Linked DNA regions of Homo sapiens: region 1 is linked to region 2. The links come from fine-mapping of genetic effects on gene expression. A gene starts in region 2. The other region holds a variant in brackets. All regions are shown on one strand. Distances are between the middles of the regions. Region 1 overlaps LOC101929028 (a long non-coding RNA gene). Region 2 holds the start of MSR1 (macrophage scavenger receptor 1).

What was found. PIP is the estimated chance that this variant, and not a neighbour inherited with it, causes the effect. A credible set is the group of variants that fine-mapping cannot tell apart.
Region 1: its variant is the best candidate, but not a certain one, in a credible set for the expression of MSR1 in monocytes (TOPMed, PIP 0.72).

What each region holds. Positions count from the first base shown.
Region 1 is chr8:16,625,628-16,631,021 of GRCh38, reverse strand. The region is part of intron 6 of LOC101929028 (a long non-coding RNA gene); the gene reads left to right. Among named protein-coding and RNA genes, the nearest start is that of FGF20, 370 kb to the left of the region's middle. The variant T/C (reference allele first, on the strand shown) is at 2,352.
Region 2 is chr8:16,189,852-16,195,245 of GRCh38, reverse strand. It overlaps MSR1 (macrophage scavenger receptor 1), which reads left to right and starts at 2,595. Exons shown (of 10, transcript NM_138715.3): 1 at 2,595-2,648.

The DNA.
Region 1 (5,394 bases), 440 kb before region 2:
GGCAAGTGCTTTAATCTCTAGGACACAATCTGAGCACTATGAATAAACATATATATGCCACTTTCCCCTCATTAATGTTCGGATTTTGCAGTGCTGCCAGGAAAGAGCTTTAGGATTTTGTTTGTTTGTTTGTCTTCTCAGCTACATAGCAGAGCATAGTAGCCAACTTTATTCCTCAAAATGTTAGAGAAATAGTTTTGTTTTTTTTTTTACTATGGGGATTTTAAAATGGATACTGTATTGTTGCTGTATTATTAATTCAACTAAGAAGTTGGTTGAATAGCGTTTGGATTACTGAAAACTGGAATTTATGTACATGTAGAGATTCCTTTAATTTGTTTTCCTACAGTTGTGAAAGTGAAGCCTTATTTTGTTGAAAAATTTGAAAGCACACAAAAAAAACACAAAACCTATGTATTTTGGGGCAACAATACTATCATGTAATTCCTAATTATGTGATCCTGAGATGCTTGTTGCTTCTTTCCATTTTTTCTTTAAAGTAATTGAAATAATTAAAATGGGAATATTTATGTTATATATTCATACTTTTAAATTATTTTCCATTTAACATTATATCATAAGCATTTCTTATTTTCTCAAAACGTCTTTGAAAAATCACAAGTTTTAATTACTGCAACATATTTACTTCTTTGGAAATAACAGTGTAATCAATGTTTGTTAATTTTTCTCTTTATCGTTAACTTTTACAAATAATATTTTAGTAAACAACATTATTTAAATCTTTGCTTAAATCTTCCGTTTTTCTTGAGGTGAATTTATGGGTATTCTTAAAGAATAGCGTTACGATTATTTTGCTCCAATAAAGAGAGAAATTAGCAGAATGTAAACATTTAAAATATTTAAGTTTATATCACTCCTTGAGACATGGCATATATTCTTATAAAATCACTAAATACTTTTTGCTTTCTTGTTTCTAAGTTTCTAACTTTTACTAATGAAGACGAACAAATACAATACAACATAAAATAAGTTTAGGAGTGGAAAACTAAAGCCACTTAGGGGAGAGGTGTTTCTGCTGGTGTGATCTTTAGAGGGAAGAGGAGGGTCTTACTTCCATGAATGGAAGCAGGAAGCAGTTTAAGGAACAGAAATGCAAATGTAGGGGAAGGGAATGGGGTGGATAGACTCAGCCATGAGCTTTCTGGCCCAAACGTCTATGGGGCATACCCTGCTAGTTGAGAGGGTGCTTTGAAGATAATTCTCCCTTAACATAAGCTAATGAAGTTTTGGATCCAGCAAATAACTAATTTCACGGAAGTACTTACTAGCATAAAACTTATTACCAGCCACCAGCCATCTTGATGCAGACTGTGAGAACATCTCTTGGTGCCATAAAGAATTGGACAGTAAGGGCTTCAGGGTTTCTGCACACTTCTTTCTTTGTCCTCTAAATTGCCAATAGACACGTCTATTCTTCCAGGGTTAAAGGGTAAAAAGTATGTAATTCTATCTGCCCATTTAGGGAGATTAGGATACATTATTTATCACAGTAAATTTTTAACTGCCTGCAATGGATGGAATTAGAACAGCATATGAATATATTCAAAGCATTTGATTTTATAGTATTTATAAAGTATTTTTTTAATTTTTAATTTTAGTGGGTACATTGTTTTATATATTTATGGGGTACGTGAGATACTTTGATACCAGCATGTAATGCAGAATAATCACATCAGGATAAATGCAGTGTCTATCCCCTCAAGCATTTATCTTTTGTTACAACCAATACAATTATATTCTTTTAGTTATTTTAAAATGTACAATTAAATTATTATTGACTATAGTCACCTTGTTGTGCTATCAAATACTAGTCCTTAATAATTCTTTCTAGTTATTTTTGTACTTGTTTACCATCCCCACTTTCTCCCCCAACCCCCACTACACTTCCCAGTCTCTGGTAACCATCCTTCTACTTACTCTCTATCTTCATGGGTTCAATTGTTTTAATTTTTAGCTCCTACAAATAAGTGAGAACATAGAAAGCATTATTTTGATTCCAATATTTAAATAGATATTTTTCCTTAAGTGCAGAAAAACAAAAAATGAAAAGATTACCTTGACCCCATATCATCCAGCATATGTTACTGTTTACAATTTGATATAAATATATTTGATAAAATATATTTCTTCCAGTCTTCTAAATACACATTTTATTAATGATCTAAGGCTTAATTATGCTGCAGTAACAGAAAATTTAAAAAAAGATAAACAATGGTTTCTTGCTCAGACTACATGCGTGAGACCAGCTGGTGCTCATCTCCATAAGATCTTCAGTCCAGAACCCAGGCAATCAGCAGCTTCACATGTGGCAGTGCGGGGGAGGAAAGAGA[T/C]AGAAGAAAATGAGACAAGATTTGCACCTGGTGCATGGAAGAGGCTCGTGTAACTTCTGTTTACATTTCATTGGCTAATTCAAGTCACGTGGTGGAACCTGGCATTAAAGAGGCAACCTAGCGTGTGGTCAAACTAGAGTGAAGGGGTGTGGATGCAAAAATTAACAAATCTTTCCATGATTGTGGAGCAGCTCTATCATGATTGAGAATTCAGCGCCAGTAGCAGCAGGGATCTTACTGTGTAATGACGGGTCATCAAAGCCAGGTAGAGCTTTGTAAGATTTTTTTACACTAACATTCATACTGGATCTTTATATTCTTTAGGAAAATAGCAGAATAACAGAATTTTAAGGTCAACTAGAATGAGTACAATAAATTTGTTTGTGGAATATATTAATATCTAAAAATAACTTTGCCGTATAAAGTAATGCCAATGTAATTTTTTCTTTTCATTACTGCATTTTGAATCAAAACAAATTTGGCACGTTAAGCAGTATAGGAAACAACTTGAATTTAGCAAAGAAACTTGTAGGCAATTCAAGTAAGCAAAACACTGTATCACAGCAATCTAGCCTAATTTATTCTCATTGGTTCCTCTTATTGTCACATATTGTTCCATTCATTCCATGATAAATTGTACCTCTCTGGGTCAGAAAAAAAGTATTCAAATAGAAATAATTTCAGCAATTTTCTGATGTCACACTCTGTTTTTTCTTCCACGTTTTGAATTATTTTATTGGGACGCATACCCCTATGAGCTCAAGTCTTATCACCAAAGCAGGTTGCTAACTAACTGGAGTTTCATATTATGCTGTTGTCATCATCTTCTTAGATGTTGTATCTTTAAGACAGTTTCTATTTGGCTAATGGCATTCTTTATCTCCTGTAGTTTAGGCTTACCTTAAGTGAACCAATATTGAATGTATTATCCTATTTTCACTATTTCCAATAAAGGCATGGCCTCAATCATAGATATATTAGGCTTCTTTTAGCAGAGCTAGTGCAAGTATAAAGGTAGAAAGAGAAAAACTACTTGGCAAACAGCTTAGTGAATTTTTGCATTGTTTACTTGAAAATGAATCTTGTTTTTGGTGGCCATTTCTCAGAAAACTTTACTATCACATATTTTTATGTCCTAATTATTCAATTCAGGTTTCTTTAGTTATAAAATCAGCAAAAAGGTCTGTTTCTATTTATTTTCACATAGCTAAGACTTATAAAATTGTGAATTTAGAAATTGCTAGATTGGAATTAATTTCATCTTATAAACCCAGCATACTCATTTAATAATAGAATCAAGATAAACAATTATAGGATAGACGAAAAAAATAGAAATTGAACTAGAACATTGAACAGAGTGCTAACTACAAGTTCTAACATTTTTGTTTTTGTTTTACATGTTCAAATATTCATGCATGCATAAAGTATTACGTGGAATTTAAATAATTTCTTTAAAATGGAAATATGTTGTATTTAATGGACACTAATTTGTTTTAAAACTACGGAATGAATCCAGGAAAGAGGTGCATGATTTAGTAGTTGCCTAAATTGTACCTTCTACAGATGTTCTGAGTTTATTAAAATTAGTTATTATTAATTAGTTGCATAAAATATTAGCATATCAAACTAAAACCAAAGGATCAAAACTCAAAATGTTAGGTAGATAAAAACTCTCATGGTTTTTTGTTCCTTCAGGGATTTATAAGAACTTTCAGTCTTTTGCAGTGCTATTGTGAAACCAACAACTGGTTGTTATTTTGAATCTCAAAAAGGAATTCGAATTTGGGGTCCTAACAGGAAATGACATTTACCCAAAGGAATTCAAATAAGGAAATATTTGAAAAAGTAAGAGGAAGATATATTCAAAGCAATATCTTTTTCTCTTTTGGAATATGGAATGCAGCTAATGATAGGTGTAGTTGTATTTCCTGACGTTAATTTTGTGTTACAGGTGAGGAGCCAGTTAAGAATGGTCTAGTCTGGGTGTTAATTATGCACAGAAATCCACTGGCTTTGTTTTGAAGATAGCTGGGAATTTGGGATAGGATTAGAGGGGTTATAATTGCGAAGGAAAGCCCTTGCTTTGACGTCTCTGACTTAGGTATCTATCTAAATATTGCAAAATAATTATAATAGGTGTAACCTGAACATTGGCTTTAGGCATAGTATGATTTTAGAGATGAGGAAAAGTTGTCCATATATGAATATCTGCCAACATTTCCCCCATCATCTCAGTGTTAACTTTCTTTTCTGAGAAATGAATTCATTCATTCTTTCTACAACCAGAAGTAAGGAAGATTCATCAGTTTTAGGTGGAGTAGAGAGGAAGATTCAGGTGAATTTCTTTTGGACAGGTGAGAAATTTCTAAAGCAGGGCCTCAAATTGGAACTTGTGTATGTTGCTGTGCAGGGAGGTGTAAGCAAGCTGGGTGGTCAGCCTGGGAAAGTCAGGTCTTTTGTTGCATCACAATTTATAGCCCTGACTTTGGGATATGTGTAATAATTTCGCAAGTATTTTCAGTCTCTTGGGCACAGTGGCTCTAAATGAAAGCGTGAAGAAGGTAGTTACATCAGCATACTCCCACCTGCTTTAAAATATTTTCTCCTTTCCCCACTTTGGCAAATGGCCTAAAGGTGCTGCTAGTTTCCATGTCCCACCTGGTATCCTAAAACTTTTCACCAGCTCTCTTTGATCTACGTTCCTCAGTGTCTTTTGAAGCCTGCTTTAAATCCTGGTATTCAATACTAATTCATTGACCATCGTATGGTCAATACCATACCAAGGATCTGATAAAATAATACACACTTATATACCAGTAGGTAAAAATATCTTTCTTTCTAGGATATTTTGCATTTTAATGTAGAGCACTCATGATTAACTTTAAAAGACCTAATGTGGTGGAATTTGAGGAACAAGGGTAGTCCACTTAGAGAGACGGCTGGAAAAGAGTAGGTTCTAGGAACTCCCAAATAGTTGTTTAGTTAGCTTTCATTTAATGTGGGCTCTATATTTGGGAATATAAGAGAAACCAAAATGTAAAAA
Region 2 (5,394 bases):
GAATCTCTGTTTGGTCACTGGGCATAATCTTACATGGACCTCATTCTAGACACATATATCCATAAGCAACAAAAATAAAGTAATTGGGATCCATCACAATAACTATGAACAAAGTAACTATCCACATGATCTGGAATTTGCCCATATTTGTGGCTTGTTTTCTGTATACTGTTTTTGATGGAGATATTATAGTCCCCTAATAATACATATACCTACTTCAGCTTAAGAAAAAACTATATTTTGCCAAATTTTGTAATCAGACTGGGTTTAAATACCAGCTCTGATGACTCATAACTCTGATCTCGAGAAATTTACTTACCATCTCTAAACATTAATTTCTCAATTAGGGAAGTGATATGACAAAGTTGCTGTGAAGTCAAATGAAGGAATGAATGCAAAATCCCAACCCTTTACATATTACCTCTGTTCTCAATTAATCATTGGCTTGAACTGAACATTTTTAACATGGTTCCCTGCTAAAGGTGTTTTTACATATAGTAAGACCTAATAGATAATATTATGTTACATAATCTATAATTATTATATATAAAACTATATAAAATTATATAGTACCTATTTAGACATATAAAAAGGGAAGTTTTTTAATGAAAAATTAGATTGGCTGAAGAGTGTGGAAATCATCACATAGGGAAGTGGTCAGCACTGTGGATATACACCAAACAGTATTACAGAGACATACTGAAAATAAAGCACACTGACAGAAAGAAACCTCATTAGGATAGAATTTTGGGAGATTGGTGTCTTGTTATTCCCAGAGTCTGACTTTTCTAATCACGTAGCATTGTCAGGGATATCTAAATTTTAAACTTCAGATTTTGTACAAAAAAACCTAAAAGGACTATATTTTAAAATAAGAAGCATGTACAAATAATTGTAAAGGAAAGAGTGTGAGTTTTGTAGTCTCCAGTTCTGTGTCAGTAAGAATTTGATGAGGAATAGCCAATAGCATTTATGCTGGTCCAGGCTGGATCAAATTGTGATCGTACTTCTAGTCTTCAAGCTGCCTGGTTAGAAATTATGCAGCTTACTTTGATGCCTGTCCTACTACTACTATTAGCCTTTTAGTGGTTACCTTAAGAATAACTGAATAATACTGTTACTTTGCATCTCTCAAAGACCGTGCGCTGTTCCCGCATACTTTCTTGCAGACGTATTGTCTTCTGAAGGATGGTGCCCATGGGCACAGCAATTTGGGGCATCTTTTGGTAGGAAGCATGATTTCTCCTGTTTGGGCACAAAAGAGTGACTACGGAATATAAGCTAAACACCTTCTCCCAGAAATATCAGTTGTAAAACTTAGCTCATTAATGTAATGTTGAACGTTTTCATGTGAGTCATACTTGAACTTCTTGAATGTGAGTAAATAACGGAGTTGAATTGTATAAAACCCTGATGGATGGCAGAAGGGAAAGAACATCCCTTTCATCTGATCCATGCCTGAGATTCCTTCCCTCTACTATACTACTGGAAATAAACAACTTGTCTGGTGCTCTAAAAATTAATGCTATTATCATTATAGAGAGAACAGGAGTGAGTGCTTTTAGGTTATTACTTGTTCTTACTAAGGCATCATATTCTTTCTTCACGTGTTTTGTGTTTGAGGCTAGGGATAAAGGTACAGGAAAAAGGATCTAAGAAAAAAACTCGAATCTCTAAACATGGAGTCTTTTTTTTTTTTTTTTTTTTTGAGGTGGAGTCTCACTCTGTTGCCCAGGCTGGAGTGCAGTGGTGCGATCTCTGCTCACTGCAACCTCCGCCTCCTGGGTTCAAGCAATTCTTCAGCCTCAGCCTCCCGAGTAGCTGGGATTACAGGCGCATGCCTGGCCAATTTTTGTATTTTTAGTAGAGACTAGTTTCACCATGTTGGCCAGGCTGTTCTAGAGCTCCTGACCTCAAGTGATCCAGCCACCTCGGCCACCCAAAGTGCTGGGATTACAGGCATGAGCCACCACACCTAGCCAAACATGGAGTCTTTACTCAACATTATAGTAACGTGAAAGAGGAGATCATGAGAATTAATGTATGTTTTAGAAGGCATAGATTACTTATAAAAAAGGAAAGATCAGGCTGGGCACGGTGGCTCGCGCCTGTAATCCCAGCACTTTGGGAGGCCAAGGCGAGCGGACCATGAGGTCAGGGGATCAAGACCATCCTGACCAACATGGCGAAACCCTGTCTCTACTAAAATACAAAAAATTAGCCGGGTGTGATGGCACACGCCTGTAGAACCTGGGAGGCAGAGGTTGCAGTGAGCGGAGATCACACCACTGCACTCCACCCTGGTGAGACAGCGAGACTCCATCTCCAAAAAAAAAGGAAAGCTCAATCTGCTGTAAATTATGTGCTTGTTTCAACAACCCTTGTTTCTTTTCCTTTTCACTTCTCTTTTTTTTTTAAAGCGGCCTAAATGGGGTGAAGAGTGAGTTATCTGACAAATTTAGATTTTGCAAACCTGTGCATTGATGAGAGTGCTATTGAAACACATTAAGAAAGATTTTCAACGCAGGAATGTGTCATTTCCTTTCTTCATGTACCAGATGCTGAAATACTATGAGATAAAGATTTTAGGTTTCAATTGTAAAGAGAGAGAAGTGGATAAATCAGTGCTGCTTTCTTTAGGACGAAAGGTAAAGAAAAAAAAAGGCTTATTTTAATGTTTTTTCCAGAATTGTTTCTATTGATTGTTATGTGTGTACTCTGTGTGTGTGTGTGCATGCATGTGTGTGATATATATTTGTGTGTCTGTGTGTGTATGATGAGATGAATGCTTTATTGTATCAGCAATAATTTGGTTTGGTTTTTTTCGATAATCAAAAAATAGGGATTTCTGCTAAATTTTCCATGAGTGAAAAACATATATGTTCACAAGTACATATGAAATACACTAAATGCTTTGTAGTTTGAACCAGCAATGGGGTTTTTTCATATAATTAAGCATATTTTGTTTAAAATACTGGTTTTATTCAAAGTATAATTTGACATATTTCACCTATTCTCCTTTCATAACTTTTCATGGAACATTTTTGGCTTTAATCTAATGCCTTTTATTATCTTCCCTTGATTATATAGCAAATATTGGCTGGGTATCTACTATATGCACTTCATTGAACTAGATGTGGGGAAAGGATACAAAAAATAAGATATAGTTCTTTTTGTGCTCCGGAATCTTATGATTTAAAACATATCCCCAAATAGGCATAATGTAATTTGAGCACCTTAAGTAGTATGAAAGTACTATAGATAATTACTAGCACCTTAAGTAGTATGAAAATGCTATAGATAATTACTATGAAAATATAGGCGAGGCCAAAATTACTTCTATGTGAAAAAAGTCTATCAAAAATAAATCTTCATGGAGATGCTAGAAATCTGATTAATCTTGAAGACTAAGTAAGATTCACACAGCATATAATGGGAGGTTGGCATTTGCACTGACCAGGTAAAAATACTTATAGAAAAACCATAGAACTGAGATTACAGATGTTTTATGCAGTGATTAGCCGTTTTATGCAGTGGGTAAGAGCTAATCTTCTGGGAGTAGACTGCCTGTGTTCAAATTCCAGCTCCCCTGCTCCCTAGTTGAGTAACTTGACTAGTTACTTACACATTTCAGTTCCCTAACCTGTAAAATGGAGAAAATACTACTTGTACCTCATGAAGATTCCGTGAGAACAAAATAAGAAAAGCTCATATTTAAAAAAAAAGTGATATTTTAAAATAACAGGGATTCATATATTGATGGTTTTCTGTGTACCAGGCAATTTACAAAAATTATTTTTAATTCTCGCAATAATTCTTTAAATTTATATTGTGATCATATTTTACATATCTAAAGAAAGTTCAATTCAAATAAGTTAAAATATTTGCCTAAGATCACACAGCTAAATGATGTCACAGTCAATACTCAAATCTAGATTTCAGATTCAAAAGTTGATGCTCTTTCTTCTTTGCTACCAAGGATGAATATCAGTGACATCAGGCACAATATAAATATTTCCATTTCTTACTAAAATCTGTCTTACAGACGGGTTCCTTAAGCATAAAGCTGTTAGTTTCACAAATAATCTTAATTTAATTTTCATTTTATATACACATTCAACTGCTGTTACAAAAATCAAAGTTATTATTTTATATAATAAGGAGGATCACAAGCTTATTATTTATTCCAAATGTTGAAGATAAAGTTGGCCTTAAGAATATGATGGGCCGGGCACGGTGGCTCACGCCTGTAATCCCAGCACTTTGGGAGGCCAAGGCAGGTGGATTACCTGAGGTCGGGAGTTCAAGACCAGCCTGACCAACATGGAGAAACCCTGTCTCTACTGAAAATACAAAATTAGCCGGGCGTGGTGGTGCATGCTTGTAATCCCAGTTACTCCGGAGTCTGAGGCAGGAGAATCACATGAACCCAGGAGGCGGAGGTTGTGGTGAGCCAAGATCACGCCATTGCACTCCAGCCTGGGCAACAAGAGCGAAACTCCATCTCAAAAACAAAAAGAAAGAAAGAAAAAAGAAAGAATATGATAAAAAAACTAAATAGGGAAAAATCTTAGGAAAACGAATGCATGTCAAGTATGAAAAGACAGATGGTAAATATGTATTAAACATAAAGAGCTGATTCACATGCTTAGGTAAAAGAAACCTGTGGGGATGTATAAGCAGTGAATATGAATAGATAATAACCCAAGAAGAACAATGTATGACAGACAATTACAGTGAAATCTCTCTCTTACATTAATAATAAAAAATAAAAATGAAAACCACTTTTAGGTATTATTTAACTCTTATCAAAATCTAAATGATTCTAAAATAAGCTTTATTATTCAATGGTAGTGAATTTTGCTTGAAACTGCCATATTCACATATAAGTCTGGAATATTTATAAATTTATGTTATCTTTTTAAAGATCACTAAGACAGTAGAGCCCAAGAAGTTCAAAATAGTTTTCCTTTCACTTTTTAGTTTCACATATGATGAATTATCCTAAAGAAACATTTTAAAAGAAGAAAGCTAAATTATGAAAATAATGGCCGGGGCAGTGGCTCACATCTGTAATCCCAGCACTTTGGGAGGCCAAGGAGGGTGGATCACCTGAGGTCAGGAGTTTGAGACCAGCTGGATGAACGCGGTGAAAAATACAAAAATGAGCTGGGCATGGTGGCAAACGCCTATAATCCCGCTACTCGGGAAGCTGAGGCAGGAGAATCACGTGAACCCAGGAGGCAGAGGTTTCAGTCAGCTGAGATCACACCATTACACTCCAGCCTGGGTGACAAAGCAAGACTCAATCTCAAAAAAAAAAAAAAAAAGGAAATATTTATAACATCATTATTTATATCAGTGAAGCATTGCCCCCTGGGAAAAGGAAAAAAA